Linked DNA regions of Homo sapiens: regions 1 and 3 are each reported to be linked to region 2. The links are microRNA targets in miRTarBase. Many come from high-throughput screens and were not tested one by one. Region 2 holds a microRNA gene; each other region holds the end of a gene's coding sequence.

Region 1 (7,200 bases), not on the chromosome of region 2:
TAGGATGGTGCTGAAAATTTTGGGGTAGGTGGTTAGGATGGGGCTGGGAATTCTGGGGTAGGTGGTTAGGATGGGGCTGAGAATTCTGGGATAGATGGTTAGGATGGGGCTGGGAATTCTGGGATAGATGGTTAGGATGGGGCTGGGAATTCTGGGGTAGATGGTTAGGATGGGGCTGGGAATTCTGGGGTAGAATTTTGGGTGACATTGAGAATCTGAGCCAGGCCAGAAGGCACAGTGGAAGCATCACTGGTCAGGCCCAGCCTCCTCTGTCCTTTGAGGAGACTCTAGTTGTCTCTCCTGATCTGCAGCCTGGGGGAAACTGAGGCACAGATCTGAGACCTGGCTGTTGGGTTTGGGGTTTATGGATCCAGGGCAGCATCCAGCTGACCCATTGGCTTCCCGCAGGATGCTCTGCACACGTTCCCACAGCTGCAAGTGGAGCAGAGTGGGGAGGGCTCTCCGGAAGAGGGGGCTGTGCGGCTGCGGCCTGCTGGGGAACCCTACAACCGCAAGACGCTCAGCAAGCTCAAGAGGAGCGTGGTCAGAGCCCAGGTGGGCACTGGGGCTGGGGCTGGGAGTGGGGAGTGCTGGCGGTATGTGGGAAGGGAGGAGAGGGGCTGCCAAGTGCCGGGCTGGAGGGGCTGAGGCATCTCCACTCCTACCCAGGAGTTCAAGGTTGAGCTGGAAAAGTCGGGATACTATACACTCTACCATTCGCTCCACCACTATAAATACCACACCTTCCTGCGCTGCCGGGACCAGGTGAGCCCCACCCACAGCACCCATCGCCCTGGGATTCCAACCTTTCTGACTTCCTCTTGGGATCTGAGGGTCCAAGCCCAGCCCCATCCTGCCTCAGACCCAAGAGTTCAGGTCCTTCTGTCTTGGACTTAAGAATGCAGCCCCCAGCCCTGGTCTCCCTGGGACACTGACATCTGACACCCCAGGCCCCATGCCCCAGCCCCTTCCCTCCCCAGAGGCCGGTGTGCCACCCTCCCCAGTGCCATGTTTGACCCCTGCAGACCCTGGCCATCGAGGGCGGCGCCGAGGACCTGGGCCAGGAGGAGGTGGTCCAGCAGTGCATGCGGAACCAGCCGTGGCTGGAACAGCTCTTTGACTCCTTCAGTGACCTGCTGGCCCAAGCACAGGCCCACAGCCGCTGCGGGTGACCCCGCCCCAGCTTGTGAGGGGGGCGCCTCCTCCATGAACCGAGAATTGGGACAGAACCGTGTCCTCAGGAGCTAACACCTGGGCTCCATCGCCGGGGAAAGGGGGTCATGGGTCAGGGTGTGTCTGTGCTGCCCCCTCCAGGGCAGGGTTCAAAGTCCGACTCCCCCCCTCTCCCAAGCCCCCTCCACTCCCTCCCCATTCCTCCCACTGTTCGGTGTACAGAGAAATTATTTATATATATGTATAAATGTCTATTTAGTAACGGTTTCCCTCTCCCCTTGCCCCGACCCCCCCTCCACAGCCACAGCCCCCGCCCCCTCCACCTTGTACATAATGTATAGGAAAAGTCTATGTATGGCTGGGGGGGGTGGGGTGGCTTCAGAGAGCTGGGGGACCCCTTCCCCCCAAGTCCCCCCTGCAGGCCAAGATCTTTGCTAAAGGCCATTCCCTCCGCAGGGCATTTGGCGTCGGGTGGGAGGGGAAAACGCATCTTGTTAATTATTTTTAATCTTATTTATTGTACATACCTGGGGCAGGGGCTTGGGGAGGTGGAGGGGGGAGAAGGGTCCCCTCTCTCTGCCCCTCCCACTCCTTTTCTACGGCGATTTGTCTGTGTCTGGCCCCCACCCACTGCCCATCCCCCATTGTTGTCTGGATGTGGTTCTATTTTTTATCGGTCTCCTTTCCCCTCCTCCCCGTTCTCGCCCCCGCCCCACCCCCTGCTCCCACTACCCTTTGTCTCTTGCTCTTTCTTGGGCTTCTGTACAACTCAACTTGTATACACTGTGTACACACAACCAGCCAAACGAAAACCCAACGGCAAACACTTTACCGGCAGGCTGGAGTGCCTCTGTCCTGCGGCGCTGGAGTGGGTGGCAGTGGTAGCAGGGGCAGAGGTTCTGGAACGGGACTTTCCCAGAGCCCTGGGCAGTGGGGGGCCTGAGGCTGGCATATGTTCTGTGTCCCCGCACAGCAGAGTATCCCACCCTGAAATTTAATGACTTCAGACAACAAATATTTATCACTGGGGGGTTTCTTTTGTTTTTTAGCTAAAGACAGGGTCTCGCTCTGTCACCTAGGCTGGAGTGCAGTGGCATGATCATAGCTCACTGCAGCCTCCAACTCCCTGGCTCAAGCGATCCTCCTGCCTCAGCCTCCCAAAGTGACGGGATTACAGGCAAGTGCCACTGTGCCTGGCCCTGTGTTCTTTATGTTACCCAGGCTGGCCTTGAACTTCTGGGCTTAAAAGATCCTCCTGCCCCAGTCTCAAGTAGTTGGCATTACGGGTGCATGCCACTACACCCAGTTCAAATCCTGTAGTGTTTTGTTTTGGTTTTTTTTTTTGAGACAGAGTCTCGCTCTGTCACCCAGCCTGGAGTGCAGTGGTTCGATCTTGGCTCATGCAACCTCAGCCTCCCCGGTTCAAGCGATTCTCCTGCCTCAGCCTCCCAAGTAGCTGGGATTACAGGGGCCTACCACTACATCCAGCAAATTTTTGTATTTTTAGTAGAAACCAGGTTTCACCATGTCGGCCAGGCTGGTCTCGAACTCCTGACCTCAAGTGATCCGCCAGCCTCAGCCTTCCAAAGAGATTACAGGTGTGAGCCACTGCGCCCGGCCTCAAGTCCTGTATTCTTGAATCCAAGTGAGTGGTCCATGGTACAGCACTCTTGGAGTTCCCCAAGCACTTGTATAAATGTAGAATCGGCACAGGCAGCAGACGAGGAGAGGGCAGGTTGAATAGGGCTGTTTCTCCTCCTCCCACCCTTAAAGGAAAAGATGTAGAATCTCAGGCTGTTGCTCTGGTCTACTTGATCAGAACCCACTTTTTAGTAAAATGCCGAGAGGATTCTCAAGCACATTCAAGTTTGAAGAACCGTGTTCTAGAACAAGAATGTTAAAAATGTGCAGGTTGGCTGGGCACGGTGGCTCACGGCTATAATCCCAGCACTGTGGGAGGCCGGGGCGGGGGGATCACTTGAGGTCAGGAGTTCGAGACCGGCCTGACCAACATGGTGAAACCCCGTCTCTACTAAAAATACAAAAATCAGCCAGGCGTGGTGGCGTGCGTCTATAATCCCAGCTACATGGGAGGCTGAGGCTGAGGCAGGAGAATCGCTTGAATCCAGGGGGCGGAGGTTGCAGTGAGTTGAGATCGTGCCATTGCACCACTCCAGCCTGGCTGACAGAGCGAGACTCCATCTCAAAAAATAAAAAATGTGGAGGTCAACTGGCAATATTTTAGAACCCAGTCTATGAAGCAGTGAACAGGCTGTTGTCATTCTAGAGCCTGGATGGATGGACCACTGGTGTTCCAGAACCCTGGCTTAGTCCGTGGGTAGGGACCCAGTGTGAGATTTGAGGGTGGAACATCAGCATTCCAGATGCCCTTTTAGGTGAGATTCAGGGAGAACCCTCATCGTTCTAGAACCTTGAGTATTGTTCCAGGGGTGTCCAAGGAGAGAATACAGTCATGGGTTCTTAGTTTCTGTTGTACCAGTAAAGCCCCTTCCTCATCCCTCTTTTTTGTTTATTACTAGAGACAGAAACTAAAAACCATGGCTTCAGGCTGCTAAAAGCCTAAAACAAAACAGAACAACAACAAAATAAGGTGGGTTGGACAAATCTGGACTCTAGACCATCACATGTTACAGATTTTTTTTTTTTTTTTTTTTTTTTTGACGGAATCTCGATCTGTTGCCCAGGCTGGAGTGCAGTGGCGCAATCTCGGCTCACTGCAAGCTCCGCGTCCAGGGTTCCTGCCATTCTCCTGCCTCAGCCTCCCAAGTAGCTGGGACTACAGGCGCCCACCACCATGCCCGACTAATTTTTTTTTTTTTGTATTTTTAGTAGAGATGGGGTTTCACTGTGTTAGCCAGGATGGTCTCAATCTCCTGACCTCGTGATCCGCCTGCCTCGGCCTCCCAAAGTGCTGGGATTACAGGCAAGAGCCATCGTGCCTGGCCACATGTTACAGATTTTAGATCCTGGTTTCAGACTAGAGGATGGATAGTAGCATTTGAGAACCATAATGGGTGAGTCAACAATAGACCATGAAGCCAGGCGTGGTGGCTCACGGTTGTAATCCCAGCACTTTGGGAGGTGGAGATGAGCGGATCACCTGAGGTCAGGAGTTTGAGACCGGCCTGGCCAGCATGGTAAAAACCTTCTTTTTTTTTTTTTTGAGACGGAGTCTCCCTCTGTTTCCCAGGCTGGAGTGCAGTGGCACTATCTTGACTCACTGCAACCTCCGCCTCCCAAGTTCAAGCGATTGTCCTGCCTCTGCCTTGTGAGTAGCTGGGATAACAGGTGCATGCCACCACTCCCGGCTAATTTTTGTATTTTTAGTAGAGACAGGGTTTCACCATGTTGATCAGGCTGGTCTCGAACTCCTGACCTCATGATCTGCCCTTCTTGGCCTCCCAAAGTGCTGGGATTACAGGCATGAGCCACTGTGCCCAGCCAACCCTATCTCTCTTAAAATTACAGAAATTAGCCAGGCATAGTGGCTTGTGCCTGCTACTCAGGAGGCTGAGGCAGGAGACTCGCTTGAACCCGGGAGGCTGAGGTTGCAGTGAGCCCAGATCGCGCCACTGCACTCCAGCCTGGGCAACAGAGTGAGACTCCATCTCAAAAAATTTTAAAAAGGATCATGAACTTTCTAGAATCATTGAGTTAAGAGGGCTGAGTACAAACCATTATTGTGCTTGAACTGTGGCCTATAGCATGTGGGGGTGCAGCCTTTGATGGAAAGCCATACATTCAAGGTCCTGGACTAGACTGTCAAACTGAGGCCAAATGCCAGGTGACAGTGGCTCATGCCTATAATCCCAGCACTCTGGGAGGCCAAGGCAGGAGGATTGCTTGAGTCCAGCCTGGGCAACATGGCGAGATCCTCATGTCTCCAGAAAAAAAAAAAAGCTAAAATTGAGGCCAAAGGATTGGCATTGTCCCAGGTCAGAGTTCCAGGATGGAAAACGGGTGGAGTATTCTTTTTCTTTTTTCTTTTTGAGACAGAGTCTCGCTTTGTTACCCAAGCTTGGGTGCAGTGGCATGATCTTGGCTCACTGCAACCTCCGCCTCCTGGGTTCAAGCCATTCTTCTGCCTCAAGCTTCCTGAGTAACTGGGACTACAGGCACGTGCCACCAGGTCCAATTAATTTTTGTGTTTTTAGTAGTGACGGGATTTCACCATGTTGGCCAGGATGGTCTCTAACTCCTGATCTCAGGTACTCCACCCGCCCTGGCCTCCCAAAGTGCTGGGATTGATTAGAGGTATGAGCCACCGCGCTCGGCCGGGAGTGGAGTGTTGTGAGCGTGGACAGTGAGGTCAGGAATCATCCCTTTAGGGACAGAATCACCTTGTGGTTGGCCTTTGGCATCCAGCTGCCCAGATTAGAATCCCAGCTGCAGCACTAACCAGGCAGATTGGGTAACAGACCCCATCTTCACCTTTGCCATCCATTAAATGGGCTTTTGTCAAAATGAAGGAAGACAACCGGTTTGGAGCACCTGGCCTGCAGCTCCTGTGACCTGTAGCAGGAGATCTAGAGAAGCTTAACAGAGGTCCACAACATGACAGAAAACAAAGAGACACAGAGAAAGATAAAGATGGGGACATTGGCCGGGCGTGGTGGCTCACACCTGTAATCCCAGCACTTTGGGAGGCCAACGTGGATGGATCACCTGAGGTCAGGATTTCGAGACCAGCCTGGCCAGCATGGTGAAACCCTGCCTCTACTAAAAATACAAAAATTTGTCGGGTATGGCCGGGCACAGTGGCTTATGCCTGTAATCCCAGCAAATTGGGAGGCCAAGGTGGGACGATCATCTGAGGTCGGAAGTTCAAGACCAGCCTGACCAACATGGAGAAACCCCGTCTCTACTGAAAATACAAAATCAGCCGGGGTGGTGCGCATGCCTGTAATCCCAGCTACTCAGGAGGCTGAGGCAGGAGAATCGCTTGAACCCGGGAGGCGGAGGTTGCGGTGAGCCGAGATCGCGCCATTGCACTGCAGCCTGGGCAACAAGAGTGAAACACTGTCTCAAAAAAAAAAAAAAAAAAAAATTTAGTCGGGCATGCTTGCCGGTGCCTGTCATCCCAGCTACTTGGGAGGCTGAGGCAGAAGAATTGCTTGAGTCTGGGAGATGGAAGTTGCAGTGAGCCAAGATCACGCCACTGCACTCCAGCCTGAGCGGCAGAGTGAGACTCCGTCTTGAAAAAAAAAAAAAAAGATGGGGACATCAAAACCTGGAAAGCTTTAGAATCGTTGCTAGGGCCTGCCAGAGCTCAGGGGAGGGGAGGAACCGAATACATAATTTCTGGCACTAACAGTACCTAGGGAGATGCCAGCCTTTTTGCTGTTGTGTGTTGATCTTTGGGACACTGGTGGCTGTAAACCTTCCAAAAATGGTCTGCCAGTTGTCTTGAGCATTTGGGGGGCAAGCGGTAACTTTAATCACCTTCTCAAAGTGCATCTTGGTCCTACTAGAAGCAGGGTGCCCCAGCCAAGAAGTTGGCCCCATCGGGCAGTGCAGGAAAGACTCTGATCCTCTGCAGGGGGCATGTGGATGGTGAGATCTGGGAAGAGAGATGTTGGCACAGGACTCCTTCCTGTTGGGGGCTCAGTACCCGCAGCTGGGGCTTAGGTGGAAGTGTCAGAGCTTGTTTGGAAACTGATCAAAACATTGCCCACCCTCTTGCCCCACCACTCCCCATCCAGCAGGGGTGGACCCCTGGTGTGCAGAGTTCCTAGCAGGGAAGAGAGCCAACATGTGACAGTACATCCGAGCTGTACTTTTTCCCAGGGCAGAAGGTTGAGAACAGGCCAAAGATTCTGTGATAATAGAACCCGGAAAGGGATATTTAGCTAATCAGTTTTTTTTTTTTTTTTTTTTTTTTTGAGACAGAGTGTCGCTCTTGTTGCCCAGGCTGGAGTGCAACGGCACGATCTCAGCTCACTGCAACCTCTGCCTCCCGAGTTCAAGCGATTCTCATGCCTCACCCTCCCAAGTAGCTGGGATTAC
Region 2 (7,200 bases):
ATGGTTGGAGGAGCTAGCCCAACAGAGGCAGCTGCGATCAGGGGAAGGGTGGAAGCCGCACACCAGAGCACCCTTGCTGCTCCAGGGCTGTCAACGATCTTCTCATACTCAGAGACTCGCTCGCCCCTGTGTCCTTTCATTCCTTCCTGCAGGCACTTCTGGAGCGGGTAGCGTGGTGAGATTTCTCACACAAAATTTGCTACAAAGCTACAGTAGACCACGTAGTGTGGTAGTAACATAAGAACAGACGTATAGATCAATGGAATAAAATAGAGAGCCGGGAAACAAACCCTTGTCTTCAATAGTGCTGGGAAAACTGGATATCCACTTACAAAAGAATGAAGCTGGACCCTTACCTTATACCATGTGCAAAAATTAACTCAAGATAGATCAAGGACCTAAACTAAATCTTCATAATCTTTGATTTGGCAAGATTTCTTGGATGTGACACTAAAAGCACAGGTAGCCAAAGAAAAAAATAGACAAATTTGGCTTCATCAAAATAAAAAACTTCAGTGTATCAAAGGTCACTGTGAAGGGAATGAAAAGATGGCCTACAGAATGGGAGAAAATACCTGCAAATCACACATCTGATAAGGGACTACTATCCAGAATATGTTAAAAGCCCCTACAACTCAACAACAACAAACCAAACAACCTAATGTTAAAATAGGCAAAGTAATTCAATAGACAGTTCTCCAAAGAAGATACACAGATGGCCAATAGGCACAGGAAAAGATGTTTAAAATCATTAATCATTAGGGAAATACAAATCAAAATCACAATGAGATACCACTTCACATCTATGAGGATGGCTGGTAATAAAAACAAAAACAGAAAACAACAAATGTCGGTGAGGATGTGGCTAACTTGGGACACTCGCATATTGCTGGAGGGAGTGTAAAATGGTGCGGCCACTGTGGAAAACAGCCTGATTGTTCCTTGGTGGTAATACAGAATTTCCATATGATCCAGCATATTCCACTCCTAGGTATATACTCAAAGTAATAGAAAATAGGAACTCAAACAGATGCGTGTACAACAACCTTCATAGCAGCACCGTTCATAATAGCCAAAAGGTAGAAACAACAGAACCGTCCACCAGCAGATGAACAGATAAACAAAATGTGGCAAATGCATGCAATGGAGAAGGATTCAGCCACAAAAAGGAGTGGGATTCTGATACCTGCTATGACACGGATGAGCACCAAAGACATTATGCTAAGTGAAATAACCCAGACACAAAAGGAAAAATATTGTGTGATTCTACTTCTTTGAGTGACCTAGAATAGGCAAATTCACAGAGACAGAAAGTAGAATAGAGGTTTGGCAGGAGCTGGGGGAAGGGGAAATGCGGAGTGATTGCTCAACAGGTACAGAGTTTCTGTTTGGGATGATGAAAAGTTACATACAGCATTGTAAATGTCCTTATTGCCACTGAATTGTACACTTAAAATGGTTAAAGTGGTAAATTTTATATTATGTATATTTCACCATAGTAAAAAAAAGTTTTAAATACACATTCCAGGGCCCCACCCTTAGAAAGCCTCAGAGGCGGCCGGGCGAGGTGGCTCACGCCTGTAATCCCGGCACTTTGGGAGGCCGAGGCAGGTGGATCACCTGAGGTCAGGAGTTCAAGACCAGCCTGGCCAACATGGTGAAACCCCTTCTCTACAGAGATACAAAAATTAGCCTGGCATGATGGTGGGTGCCTGTAATCCCAGCTACTCTGGAGGCTGAGGCAGAAGAATCACCTGAACCTGGGTGGCAGAGGTTGCAGTGAGCCGAGATAGTGCCATTGCGCTCCAGCCCGAGTGACAGAGCAAAACTCCGTCTCAAGAAATCCTCAGAAGGTGATACAGTAAATATGGATGGGGTGGGAATCTGGAATCTGTATTATTATTATTATTATTTTTAATGCCTTCCTATCTTTCTCAGGCATAGTCAGGTTTGGAAACTTATGATTTAGTCTCTGCCAGTTCTTTCCAAGGGGCTGGTGCGTCTGTAAGGAAGTGTTCACCAGTCTACGTGAAATACATGTGTATTTCTCATGCATCTGAGTGTATTAAATTTGAAGTCCTGTTTTAAAATCTGAGATTGTCATGATTACATTGTTTTGGGGTTAAAGTGTCCAATCATCTCCCACCATAAAATGATGGTGACAATAATTCAGGTTGTTTTTTAAGTGTCTGTGCTTGGCAAAATAGAAGTGAGCAGTCCTATGTTAGTCTCTCAAAAGGTTTTCAAAATTTTAATGGTTTGTTAAATTCCAAAGATTGGGAACCATTCCTCCAGACACCATCCCTTTGAAAATACTGAAATAGAAACTGCTTCTGCTGTTTATTTTATTTGTGCCAGAAAGAAAAAAAAAATGGAAAGGACCTATACATTTTTCTGTGGTTCATAGGACCTGGAGCAACAAAGGGCAGCATTGAAACTGACAGCATTGACATGTAATTTGTCCTGCTGCCTGTTGGAACGTTCTTTTTCAGATGCTGGAGGAGCATGACAGAGGAGAGGTGGAGGTAGGCGAGAGTAATATAATTTCTCCAGGAGAACATCTGAGAGGGGAAGTTGCTTTCCTGCCCTGGCCCTTTCACCCTCCTGAGTTTGGGGGCTGTGGTGGGGCAGGGATTGACCAACAGCCATTCCTAGGGGATGGATGCCTTTGCATTCCAGAGGGCAGCTGGCTGAAGGGAGTGCTGAGTCTGTGGGAGCCATAGCCCGCCCCACCCTTTAGGCAGATTAGTTAATTATTGAAAAGTGCCTCAGAAGCACAAAGGTCTGGAGAGACTCCATGAGCTATTGCTCAGGCCCGTGTGGGAGCTGGCATTTCTGAGGAGACACTGAGACTCTTCTAGGAGGCTGTGGAACAAGAAATAGTTCCTTCCCATTGTGGTGCAGTCCTTTCAGGTTTGGTGTAGAGAGACAGTTCCAGAGAATTCTTATACAGTGCATATAACTTCTCAAGAGAGAAGTTAAATTTATTTGTCTTAGGATTTGTGAAGTATTTAGATAAATGAACCACATCAGATATTTTCCGTTGTTTTAATTTTTTGTGTGTGTGGTTTTAATGTTTTAAGGACATTCAGGTCTTTTTTTTTTTTTTTTTTTAAACGGAGTCTTCCTCTGTCACCCAGGCTGGAGTGCAGTGGCACAATCTCAGCTCACTGCAACCTCTGCCTTCTGGATTCAAGCAATTCTCCTGCTTCAGCTTTCAGCTTCCCGAGTAGCTGGGACTACAGGTGCGCGCCACCACGCTGAGCTAATTTTTGTGTTTTTAGTAGAGACGCGGTTTCACCATGTTGGCCAGGATGGACTTGATCTCGTTATCTGCTCACCTCGGCCTCCCAAAGTGCTGGGATTACAGGTGTAAGCCACCACACCCGGCCCATTCAGGTCATTTATGCATAAACGATCACATGACATGTTCTGTTCTCTGACTTACTTTTTTCTTTTACTTAACAACATTCCCTGTAGCTCTTTCTGTGTTAGTGCATATAGGCATCCCCCATTTTAACTGTTGCATTCCTTCTAGATGTATCATAGTTTCTTTACCCACTATTTTAGCAAAGGATCACATAGGTGGTTTTCCATTTTTCACCATTACAAACAATGCTGCAACAAATGTTCTTATACACAAATGGGTGTGTGTATGTATGAGTGTTTCTGAAGGATATTATTTCTAGAAGTGGAATTTCTGGATCAAAGGGCATGCACATTTAAAATTTTTGTAAATAATATTGAGTTTCTCCCCCAAAATTCTGTTCTGATTTTTATAGCCACCATTATACTCATCAGCGTTGGACATAATCATTTTGTTAAAACTGCCAGCGTCATGTGCAGAAAAAACAGTGTCATTTTAAATTGCATTTCCTGGATTTACCAGTTAGATTGTTCATTTTATCATATGCCTATTGACCATTTCAATTTTTGGAACTTTTAGAAATAAAAATACAGAAAAGGTGTATAGGCTGGTTGCAGTGGCCTACTGACCATTTCAATTTTTGGAACTTTTAAAAATAAAAATAGAGAAAAGGTGTATAGGCTGGTTGCAGTGGCCTACTGACCATTTCAATTTTGGGAACTTTTAAAAATAAAAATACAGAAAAGGTGTATAGGCCGGGTGCAGTGGCTCACGCCTGTAGTCCCAGCACTTTGGGAGGCCAAGGCGGGTGGATTGCCTGAGGTCAGGAGTTTGAGAACAGTCTGGCCAACAGGGCGAAACCCTGTCTCTACTGAAAATACAAAAATTAGCTGGGCATGGTGGCAGGTGCCTGTAATCCCGACTGCTCGGGAAGCAGAGGCAGGAGAAACGCTGGAACCCGGGAGGCGGAGGTTGCAGTGAGCTGAGATCTCGCCACTGCACTCCAGTCTCGGCGACAGAGCGAGACTCCATCTCAAAAAAAAAAAAAAAAAAAGAAAAGAAAAAGGAAAGGTGTATACATTAAAGGTGTACTGATCAATGCATTAAGACAAAGTGAACTCTTCCTTGTAATCATGTCCCAAGTCAATAAATAAAATATTATAAGACCTTCTCCCCAAAAGAAGACTCTCCCCTGAAAAAGATCGACCTCCTCCAAAGTAATTCCTACCCCAACATCTAAGTGCTGTAGATTAGTCGTTCCTGTTTCCTACTGTCATATGAACAGACTCATACAAACATGCACTCTTCTGCGTCTAGCTTCCTTCATTCGCATTACGTTTATGAGTCTTTCACGTACTCGTGTGTAGCTGTAGTATGCTCATTTACATTGCTTATTGTATTGCATTATGTGAATATATCACAATTTATTGATTGATGGACATCTGGGTTACATCTGTTGCCAACTTTCAGTTATTAATGAATAATGTTGCTAAGAGCATTATCGTGCATGCTCTTTAGTATAGCTGTGCATCATCTCTGTTGGGTATATATCTAGGAACAAGATTCTGGGGTCATCAGCATTGTTCTGTTCAACTCCACCAATTGCATTTGTGAATTTCTTATGAATATTCTTTGCACACTTATTATCGGGTGGTTTGTGTTTTATTATTGACTTGTATCTGTCCTATTTACTCTGGATGTTAGTTCTGTTGTAAATATTCTCTCTTAGTCTGTATATAGGCCCTTTTATTTTACAAAGTTTAAAGTTTTTATGCAGTCAAATCTGTAATTCTTTTTCTTTATGGTTTCTGGTTTTATATCTTGCTTAGAAAGTCCTTCTCTATCTCAAGATTGTAAAATACTCTCTTATGTCTTGTCTCCTTTTTTTTTTTTTTTTTTTTTAGACAGGATCTCACTCTGTTTCCAGGCTGGAGTACAGGATATGATCATGGCTAACTGTAGCCTCAACCTCCTAAGCCCAAGCGATCCTCCCCTCTCAGCCTCTTTAGTAGGTGGGACTACAGGCATGCACCGCCATACCTGGCTAATTTTTTAATTTTTTGTAGGGACAGGGTCTTGCTATGATGCCCAGATGGTCTCGAACTCCTGTGCGCAAGCGATCCTCCCGCCTCAGCCTCCCAAAGTGCTGGGATTACAGGTGTGAGCCACTGCATGGGGCCACATTTCCATTTCCTTCTAATACTCATTTTGATTTTTTACTTTAGGCTTTTTAGTCAGTATGGAATTTATTTGTGAGGGTGAGAAATAGAGGCTAATTTATTATCTAAATTAGGGGATGAGTAAAATGATACCATTTGCTGCCTAAGTTTTAAAAATATTTATTTTATTTTATTTTTATTTTTGAGATGGACTCTGGCTCTGTCACCCAGGCTAGAGTGCAGTGGCGCGATCACGGCTCACTGCAACCTCCACCTCCCGGGTTCAAGCGATTCTCCTGCCTTAGCCTCCCAGATATCTGGGATTACAGGTGTGCACGACCGCGCCTGGCTAATTTTCATATTTTTAGTAGAGACAGGGTTTCCCCATGTTGGCCAGGCTGGTCTGGAACTCCTGACCTCAGGTAATCCACCCGCCTCGGCCTCCCAAAGTGCTGGGATTACAGATGTGAGCCACCACACCCGGCCTCAAATATTTATTTTTAACATCTCAAAATAAGTTCTAACATCAAAGAACTAAAAAACTATCAACAAAAAAATTTTTTTACCTCAGAATAGTCTCCTCTAAGTTAAGCCTGAGTTAGATTCTAAATAGGGCAAATGTTCTAAGTCAGCGGTTGCCACCCAAAATGCTATCTATGCATATAAATGGTCAGTGACTTATTTATTCACTTACTATGTATTTATGGAATTTAAAGTGCAGTTCCCTTGGACTTACGTGTCTAACGAGGAAGAAAGGCTTCATTCTGGGACCTTCAGGGTAGCCTGGCTTGCACACTGGATCTAGGTTCACGGGTCATGAAAACTACAGTGGCTTTCTTCCCTCCCAAGCCTCCAGCTACTCCCAATCTGAGCAAATGGCCCCCAGATGGATTCTATGTTCTGAGTCCGTCCCCAGGACAGAGGGAGGTCCAGTTTGAGCTTTATTACAAATCCTGTAGGTCGGCTTTAGATTATAGACATGGCTTCCTCAGGCAAGGCTGCCCACTTGAGGGAAACAATTTTGTTGGCTGGCTGGGTGGTTGGTGTAGGGCTCACATTTGGGAGTTCACTCCTTTCTCTCCCTTTGTCTGAAACGATCAGCACCTTGTTGTGCCTGTTCACTAGCAGTACTCGGCACACAATCGTTTGTTGTGCTGACTCTCCAGTTGCTCGCAATGTGAGGTGGATTTGTTCTACTTCTTCCTTGTGTATTCTTGGTGAAGGCCGATAATTTGCTACTTAGTTAACAGACATGTTATAGGGCTGGAGCCTGAGATAAGGTCAGGAGGAGAAACATCCCGCTTAGCTTGACAAAGAGCTTGGTTTAAGGCTGGAGAGCTGACTGTGCAATTGTCTGAGCTGCTTTTCTTGGAAATGGCTCTCTTGGCTGAGCTCCAGAAATATAATCAAAAGTGGCCTGAAATCACAAGTTTTGCTGCTTGCATTCTTAGTTTCACAATTTAAGGATTTGGCTGGTGCCTGTCCTGAAAGTGTGGAATTGTCTACTGTTTGCTACACATGACGTTGAGTGAGTGTGTGTCTATGTGTGTACACACACATGCATGTGCAGGACACAGGGATTGTCTGCGTGGGCATGTTTTACAGTCCAGCTGTTTGTACCTTCAGGGAGGCAGTGATTAAAGAGCAGTGTATGGCAGGTTTTCTTTGATTTCA
Region 3 (7,200 bases), not on the chromosome of region 2:
TGGCAGGGGGTGTGGGGAGAAGTGGGGATGGTTAATGGGCACAAAAAATAGAATAAATAAGACCTAGTATTTGGTAGCACAACAGGGTGATTATAGTCAATAACTGTACATTAAAAAATAATGAAAAGAGTATAATTGGATTGGTTTGTAACACAAATAGATGATAAATGCTTGATGTGATGGATACACCATTTACCCTGATATGATTTTGATGCATTGCACAGCCGTATCAAAATATCTCATGCAACCCATAAATATATATATACTTAGGTACCCACAAACATTAAAAATTTAAAAAACAATCTTTACTGAGAAATAATTCATTTACCATAAAGTTCACCTTTTAATTGAAGTGTACAATCCAGAGGTTTTTAGTGTATTCACAGAGTTGCACAATCAATACTACTAATTTCAGACCATTTTCAACGTCCCCAGAAGAAACCTTGTACCCATTAGCAGTCATTCCCCATTTTTCCCTCCCTCCAGCTCCTGGAAACTATTAATTTACTTTGTCTCCTGGATTTGTTTATTCTGGATTTTTCATATACATGGAATCATATCTGTAGTCTTTTGTGTCTGGTTCCTTTCACTTACGATGTTTTCAAGGCTCATTTACGTTGCAGCACGTATCAGTACTTCATTCCTTTTTATGCTTGAATAATATTCCATTGTATAGATAAGCCATATTTTGTTTATCCACTTATCAGTTGATGCACATTTGTATTGTTCCCACTTTTTGGCTATTGTGAATAGTACTGCTATGAGCTTCACATATAATTGTGCATGTATATATATTTCAACTTACAAAAAGCTTACTTTAAAAAATGTACTTCATTACTTATGTCATGTTGCAGAGGTCCTGTTGAGCATCTGTAGTGTGGGCTCTGGAAATCTGAAAGTATACAAATGAGTGTATGGCCAAGTGGTCAGGGTTCTAATGATGGAAATAGTAAAATGTCCACACAGTTGTGGTCTTTCCTTTTGAATAAGATAATGGTGGGTTTGAATTTGTTTGAGGAAAAAATCCTCTTTCATTTTCCTATTTGACTTTAGCAGGCATATTACCCTGAGGGACAGGTATTCAGAGTCCATGCGCTTTTTGAGGTGGCAACATATTTCAAAAGTTGGAACGGAAGCCCTACTATTGTTCAATAAATTCTTGTCTGTGTGTGAAGGAGCTCACCGAAGTGAAGATGACATTGCTGAAAGATTTCTATTATGGTGTGCACTCTTCACTGGAAGACAGCGATTGGCTTAAACATTAAGCCCTTCAACCACAGCATGCCCAAATTCCTGACATTCACACTGGTCTGTGAGCTACCAAGTAGATCCCAATGAATAAATTGATTTCTCTACATGAATGAACCATAAGGGCAGCAAAGTGTGACAGTGCCTCATTTTCTCTTAGGTGACTTTTATTAAAGGTGTCCTAGTGGCTCCCGGAAGACAAGCTAGTGCGCAGGTACTCGTTTGCTGTTTTTGCTGATTCCAGGTGTTAAAGGTGAGAAACTAACATTCTGAAGGGGTCAGGTCAATGCTGTTCCTTCTTAGGTAGTCTTGCTGATTAGTGTTGTACCCTTCATAATTACCTGACTTAAAGTGGTTTTATATCTTTTGTTTTTTTTTTTTTTTTGAGTCAGGGTCTCACTCTGTTCCCGGGCTGGAGTACAGTGGCGCTATCTTCGCTCACTGCAACCTCCGCCTCCCGGATTCAAGCAATTCTCCTGCCTCAGCCTCTCAAGTAACTCGGATTACAGGAACTCACCACCATGCCCGGCTAATTTTTGTATTTTTAGTACAGATGGGGTTTCACCATGTTGGTCAGGCTGGTCTCAAACTCCTGACCTTGTGATCCACCCACCTCAGCCTCCCAAAGTGCTGGGATTACAGGTGTGAGCCACCACGCCTGGCCATCTTTTCGAGACATGAACTCGTTTTGTCGCTGAGGCTCGAGTGGAGTGATGTGATCATGGTTCACTGCAGCTTCTACCTCCTGAGCTCAAGCTATTCTCCTGCCTCTCTCTTAAGTAGTTAGGACCTCAGGTGTATATGCCACCACACTCAGCTTTTTTTTTTTTTTTTTTCGTAGGGACAGGGTCTCATAATGTTGCCCAGGTTGGTCTTGAACTCCTGGGCTCCAGTCATCCTCCTGCCTCGGCCTGCTGAAGTGCTGGGATTACAGGCAGTTTTATGCCTTTTCAAAGTTGCTTTCTTGCCAAAAAAAAAAAAAAAAAAAAAAGTGGCAGAAAGAGGTTAACTATATTTAAATTTTTAGAAACTCAGGAGACCAAAAGAACTAGGATCAAGATAAGTGTTTTGATCTTAAAAAGGAGTGTTTTCCCAAATTCATAAAATGTTCAATCATGCTCCTACCATGTGCGGGTGCTGTTCTAGTGTGGGAAGTGTAAAGAAAACTAAACAAAAAGCATTTTAACCTTATGGATCTTATGTTCTTATGACAGTAATATCATAGTAAGATCTGTTATGCAGTTTAGGACTCTATCTCAAAGCAGGCTTATTCACTATTTAAAACCCCAGGACTGAGCACAATATCTAGCCACATACATAGGTCAACAAATATCTACTTGAGTTGTGTATGTTGTTGGCATACAGTAACCCTGGCCTAGCTATTTTCAGAAAAATGCTTAAATTCACTCGGGATTGACCAGAATGATGGTCTAGCCTCTGTTGCTTGTCCGTAAGGCTTCTGCGGGTATTCAGATGCAAACCCCTCCTTTATTCTCCTTGCTCAGGATCCTTGTTTCAGGAAGGCAATTGTTAAACAAGACACTCCATCACTCTTACCATTTCTAATGGGCACGTTGGGTGGCAAGTAGCACATAAACAGCAACCTTGACTCCAGTGGACCAAAAAAGGCTGTAGGCAAAACCTCTACTATGCACTTAAATTGAGATTTAGTTTCCTTATGTATCAAACTGTCCTAGAATGTTACCTCAATCCTCACAATAACCCAGGAGATGGACTTTATAATCTTCATTTTACTGATGAGGAAATTGAAGATCTGAGAGGTAAAGTAACTTGCCCTACAGCTAATCAAGTGTCAGCTAGCATATGCATCCAGGACTGTTCAATTCTATGCCCTTTCTCCTCTTAGCATCTGTCTCTCAGATGGGGTAATGAAATGACTTAAAACCAATATAATCCCCAAATGGATGCAAGGAAAAGACCTTTAACTCATTCTAGAGGATTCTAATCTTCTACTTCAGAAATTTAAGTTCTTAATATCTCAGAAGCAGTTTGTGTTCCCAACTCACTCGAATACACTTTAAGACATCATGGCATGAGACCACCCACAGATCTTGTCTAGTTGCTTAATTATACTCAGTGCAAGAGGCTTTGAGGGTGGGTGAGTGGGGATGTAGTTTAGTCATTAGAACATACTTAGAATATAGGCTAGCCTGTTTACAAAATTAGGACAAATTCTTCCATACAGTTTTTTTTTTAAATTCAGATTACTTTTACTTACAAAAACTAGTATCTCGATAACTGTGATTAAAAAAAATTATGTATGTACAGAATGTTTTGAGATTTAACAAAGTACACCTAGAGAACATAAAAATTCTTTATTTAACCTAATCCAGCCAGTATTGAGATAGTTTGCTATATTAAAAACAAGACGTTTAAAAAAATTACAGCAAAGTTAGCAAGGCAGTGACTAATTAAGTCACTAAGTTTAATTTTATATTCTTCACAGTCATTTCATAATCATGTAATGGTAAACAATATTTTCAGCCACTTTGGAGATAAGTTAACTTTTGAAAAGAATTCTAGTAGTCGTCATTGAATTTTATAAAAGAGGTTTAAAACATTAAAGTTTCCAGAAATAACACAGTAAAGAAATATGAAAATAAACTGGAAAATAAAATATACCCACCCATCCGAAAAATCTACATCATCTCTTTCATTTGTCCCCAATGCCTTTCTTTTACCTCTCCATTTACTTTTCCTAGAGTGCAAACAGATTACTTAGCAATTAAGAAACAACTACTGCTTTGTAGGGGCGATTTTGAGCCTAAGTGCTGCTGTTCCTTTAATCTCTCAGTTAATCCTAGAAATAGTCTTCTGAGATAAACATTATTTGCATTTCAAAGATTAAGAAAACTGCAGTTGAGAGAAAGTCAAATCCTTTAGCCAAAATCATACATACAGTTATTGAAAGCTGAACTATGATTTGAACCCAGGTCTATCCAACTTTAAGTCTGCCTATGCTCTTTTGTTGCTTCATGGTCAGGCAGGTCACCTTCCTGGGAAGACTGGCATGTGGTATTTCTCGAGCTAATAATAATAAGGCTCTTTAGGTTTAAAAGTGTTCAATTCGGGGCTAGAGGCCACTCTGGTCCTCAGGCACTTGCAGTTCCCTCCCCGCAACCCTAAAAAAACCCTCCCTCCTGCCCCAAAAGGATTAGAGTTGTTCCCCGGCCTTCATGAGCCCTAATACCTATAAAACCAAGCAGCTACTCCCTGTCAAGGGCATTAATGTAGTAAATGGGGAACTGTGTGTTTGCATAACTTTAGTAAAGGCTGCCTAAAAACTGTTCTATACAACAAAATTTTGCAAGATATGTGTCCATTTAATGTATCTTTCACATTGAAAACAAAAGCCAATATATTTTATAATTACAGCCTATAATCTAAGTTTTTAAAATATATAACCATAGATGTTATATTTCCCCTTCAGAACTGTAGTAGTGTTCTTAATAAGGCTCACTGTTAGTCAAATCTTCATCTCCAAATAATACAAATTTGAATGTTCAACAGTCATTCAAATAAACATCATATAACTCAAAATTAAGACATTCATACTATAGAAACCAGTCTTTAATTACTAAAGTTAACATATATTATTGCAAACTAACATAGCTCAATCTATATTTGCTACACTCCTAAAGTGGCCGCTTATCAGTAAGGGGAAACATTTATTATTGACATGCATTACTGTGAACAAGAAAATAAATAGGGTTTTGAAAATATCTCTTAAAAATTTAATTTTAATTAACAAAAATAACCATTCAGGTTGCTGAACATTAAAATGGCCAATCTATTGAAAATGGCTTCAATAATTGCTTTTAAAAATGAATACAAAACTAAACAGTGATTAAGGTGCTAGCCTCATCAATAGGACAATTAAAATCTAAAAACATTAGTGTTGATTTTCTATAATAAACTTAAGCCAAAAACAATGACCTCAATATTTACTTAAGACTTCTTGTTTTCATACTTTTCTCCTCATTAATATAAAAACAAAGAGCTCAAGGCCTCACCTTGGTTTATTCACTGCTGGTTTTCTATGTGCTGAAACTAGACTGTCAACTCTGTAAGAGCTTGGACCAAGTCTGTCTTGTTCACCACTATGTCCTACAGCACTCTGCACAGTGCCTGGGAAATAGGAGGTGATCAACGAATATCTCAATAACTGAATCAATGCAAGAGGAGAGTAAAATAACTTTATTTTTATTTTTGCAAATCATCCTCTGCTCAAACTACTATAAACTGGCAGCTGTAATTTCTAGAAATATGGGTTGAAAAAACTCCCAGAGATGGAAGGACCTGATGAAACACTGAAACACACAAATACACACACACACACACACACACACACACACACACACACGACTGCATGAGTCAAAATTACTTCATGAAGTATGAGATGTCAACATTATGTAAATAAAATTTAATATTGAAAAAGTGATCTGGAAGCCCTGTGAATTTTTACCCTACACATTTTGGAGGACATCACATGGGTTAAAGAAAACACCACAAAATCTCATTTGTTCAGATAATCATTTGAATGTTTACATACATTTTTGGTTATTTATTTATAACTAATTTAATTTACATTTCCTCATATTAACATATCCTCTTATTTAGTATGTAATCAAATTATGTCAGTGAGAAAAATCCTCATAGTACCTTGAGTTGCTGATTCTGAGAAAACACTAAACATGAACATGTACAAAAGAGGCATTTGAATAAAACAGCATGTGCATTTTTTTAATATTTGCACAGTTTGATCTTTGCATTTCTGTCTGGAGAAAATATGAACAAAACCCAGGTTTACCATGCTAAGATAATGGTTCATATGACTGCCATAAAAGTAGTACATACAAACAATGAAAACAAATCACATCCTTAGGTTCCATGATTACCGAGATGATTTCCCCTGCCCTAAGTGCTTTATTATATTTCTTAAAAAATATAGGAGCAGCAGCTTATCACAAGTCTCCACAAGTGCATTAATGATGGAATCAAAACAACACAACAGATTCATAAGGATGAGAGAACTGCAGAACAACCAGAAGTCAGTTTTATGCTTCTTCTTGTTCTGGATAATTCAGAATTTTGCGGTGTGCCTGTCGTAAATATTGCTGCTGTTTGAAGTAAACTTTAAATGCTCCTTTTATGGCAACAAACGCAATTCCACCCTAAAATAAAAAGGAAAATTAGCTTTTTATAATGCAGATTTAGAGAAACAGAGTAATAAAAATAATTTTATTTAGATCACAAAAGACGTAGGCTTTGATGCTAAACTAATTCAGATGACTGCAAATGAAACAGTTTTCTTTTTCTACTAGGAGATGAGATAGGGAGAGAGACAGACTATACGCTGTTACTACAGGTAACAGGGGACACAGATGCCTTCTCCATTATCCTTTCTGACTAGTCTTTCTTCCATGTAGTTCTACATATACTCTGATATACAAAGAAGAATGCTAGGGCACTATGTGCAGACTGCCACTGTTGGGAGCAAGAAAGGCCAAAGGGATCGTGACCAACTCAGCATTCCACTGGAGGCTATATGACCAAACAGCAAACTGTTTATCATGAATGCAGGATGTGAGTAAACTCACACTGAGCCTGCCACCAAAGGGTTTGCTGGGGGCCATCACTCCCTGGTGCAGGGCTCCTTGAACTTATCTACTGGGAAATCTAGCGCCTACTGTTCAAATGATGCAGTCTCGCAAGCCTGCTGTGAACCAAACTGCCAAATGGACTGACAATTACCCGACAATCACCCCTGCTTCTCACTATCTCTTTTGCCTAATAAATACAGAGGGCTGTGTAAAGCTCAGGGCCCTTGTCCACTAGAGGCAAGGTGCCCCCTGACCCCTTCTTCCAAATATACTCTCTTGTCTTTGTCTTTTATTCCCACGTTTGCCCCCTTTGTTCAGTCCTCCAAGG

What was found. The annotated mature microRNA hsa-miR-6076 reads AGCAUGACAGAGGAGAGGUGG and lies in region 2 at 2,503-2,523, shown strand. An mRNA with a match to its seed (bases 2 to 7 or 8) in the 3' UTR can be bound and repressed. Matches are read on the target gene's strand: a 7mer-m8 pairs with bases 2 to 8, a 7mer-A1 pairs with bases 2 to 7 and ends in A, and an 8mer does both.
Region 1: the mRNA of PRR12 is a reported target of hsa-miR-6076. The part of its 3' UTR that is shown has no 7-base or 8-base seed match.
Region 3: the mRNA of MARCHF5 is a reported target of hsa-miR-6076. Seed matches in the 3' UTR shown: 7mer-A1 at 5,636-5,642.

Annotation. Positions count from the first base shown.
Region 1 is chr19:49,624,436-49,631,635 of GRCh38, forward strand. PRR12 (proline rich 12) reads left to right here. Exons shown (of 14, transcript NM_020719.3): 12 at 409-555; 13 at 670-765; 14 at 1,026-2,004. The coding sequence ends at 1,172. Among named protein-coding and RNA genes, the nearest start is that of RRAS, 12 kb to the right of the region's middle.
Region 2 is chr14:49,963,897-49,971,096 of GRCh38, forward strand. MIR6076 (microRNA 6076) reads left to right here and starts at 2,503; the gene lies at 2,503-2,615. RefSeq lists silencers at 1,300-1,369, 6,715-7,009.
Region 3 is chr10:92,350,334-92,357,533 of GRCh38, reverse strand. It overlaps MARCHF5 (membrane associated ring-CH-type finger 5), which reads right to left. Exons shown (of 6, transcript NM_017824.5): 6 at 3,570-6,443. The coding sequence ends at 6,327. Among named protein-coding and RNA genes, the nearest start is that of MARCHF5, 63 kb to the right of the region's middle. RefSeq lists an enhancer at 6,730-7,200.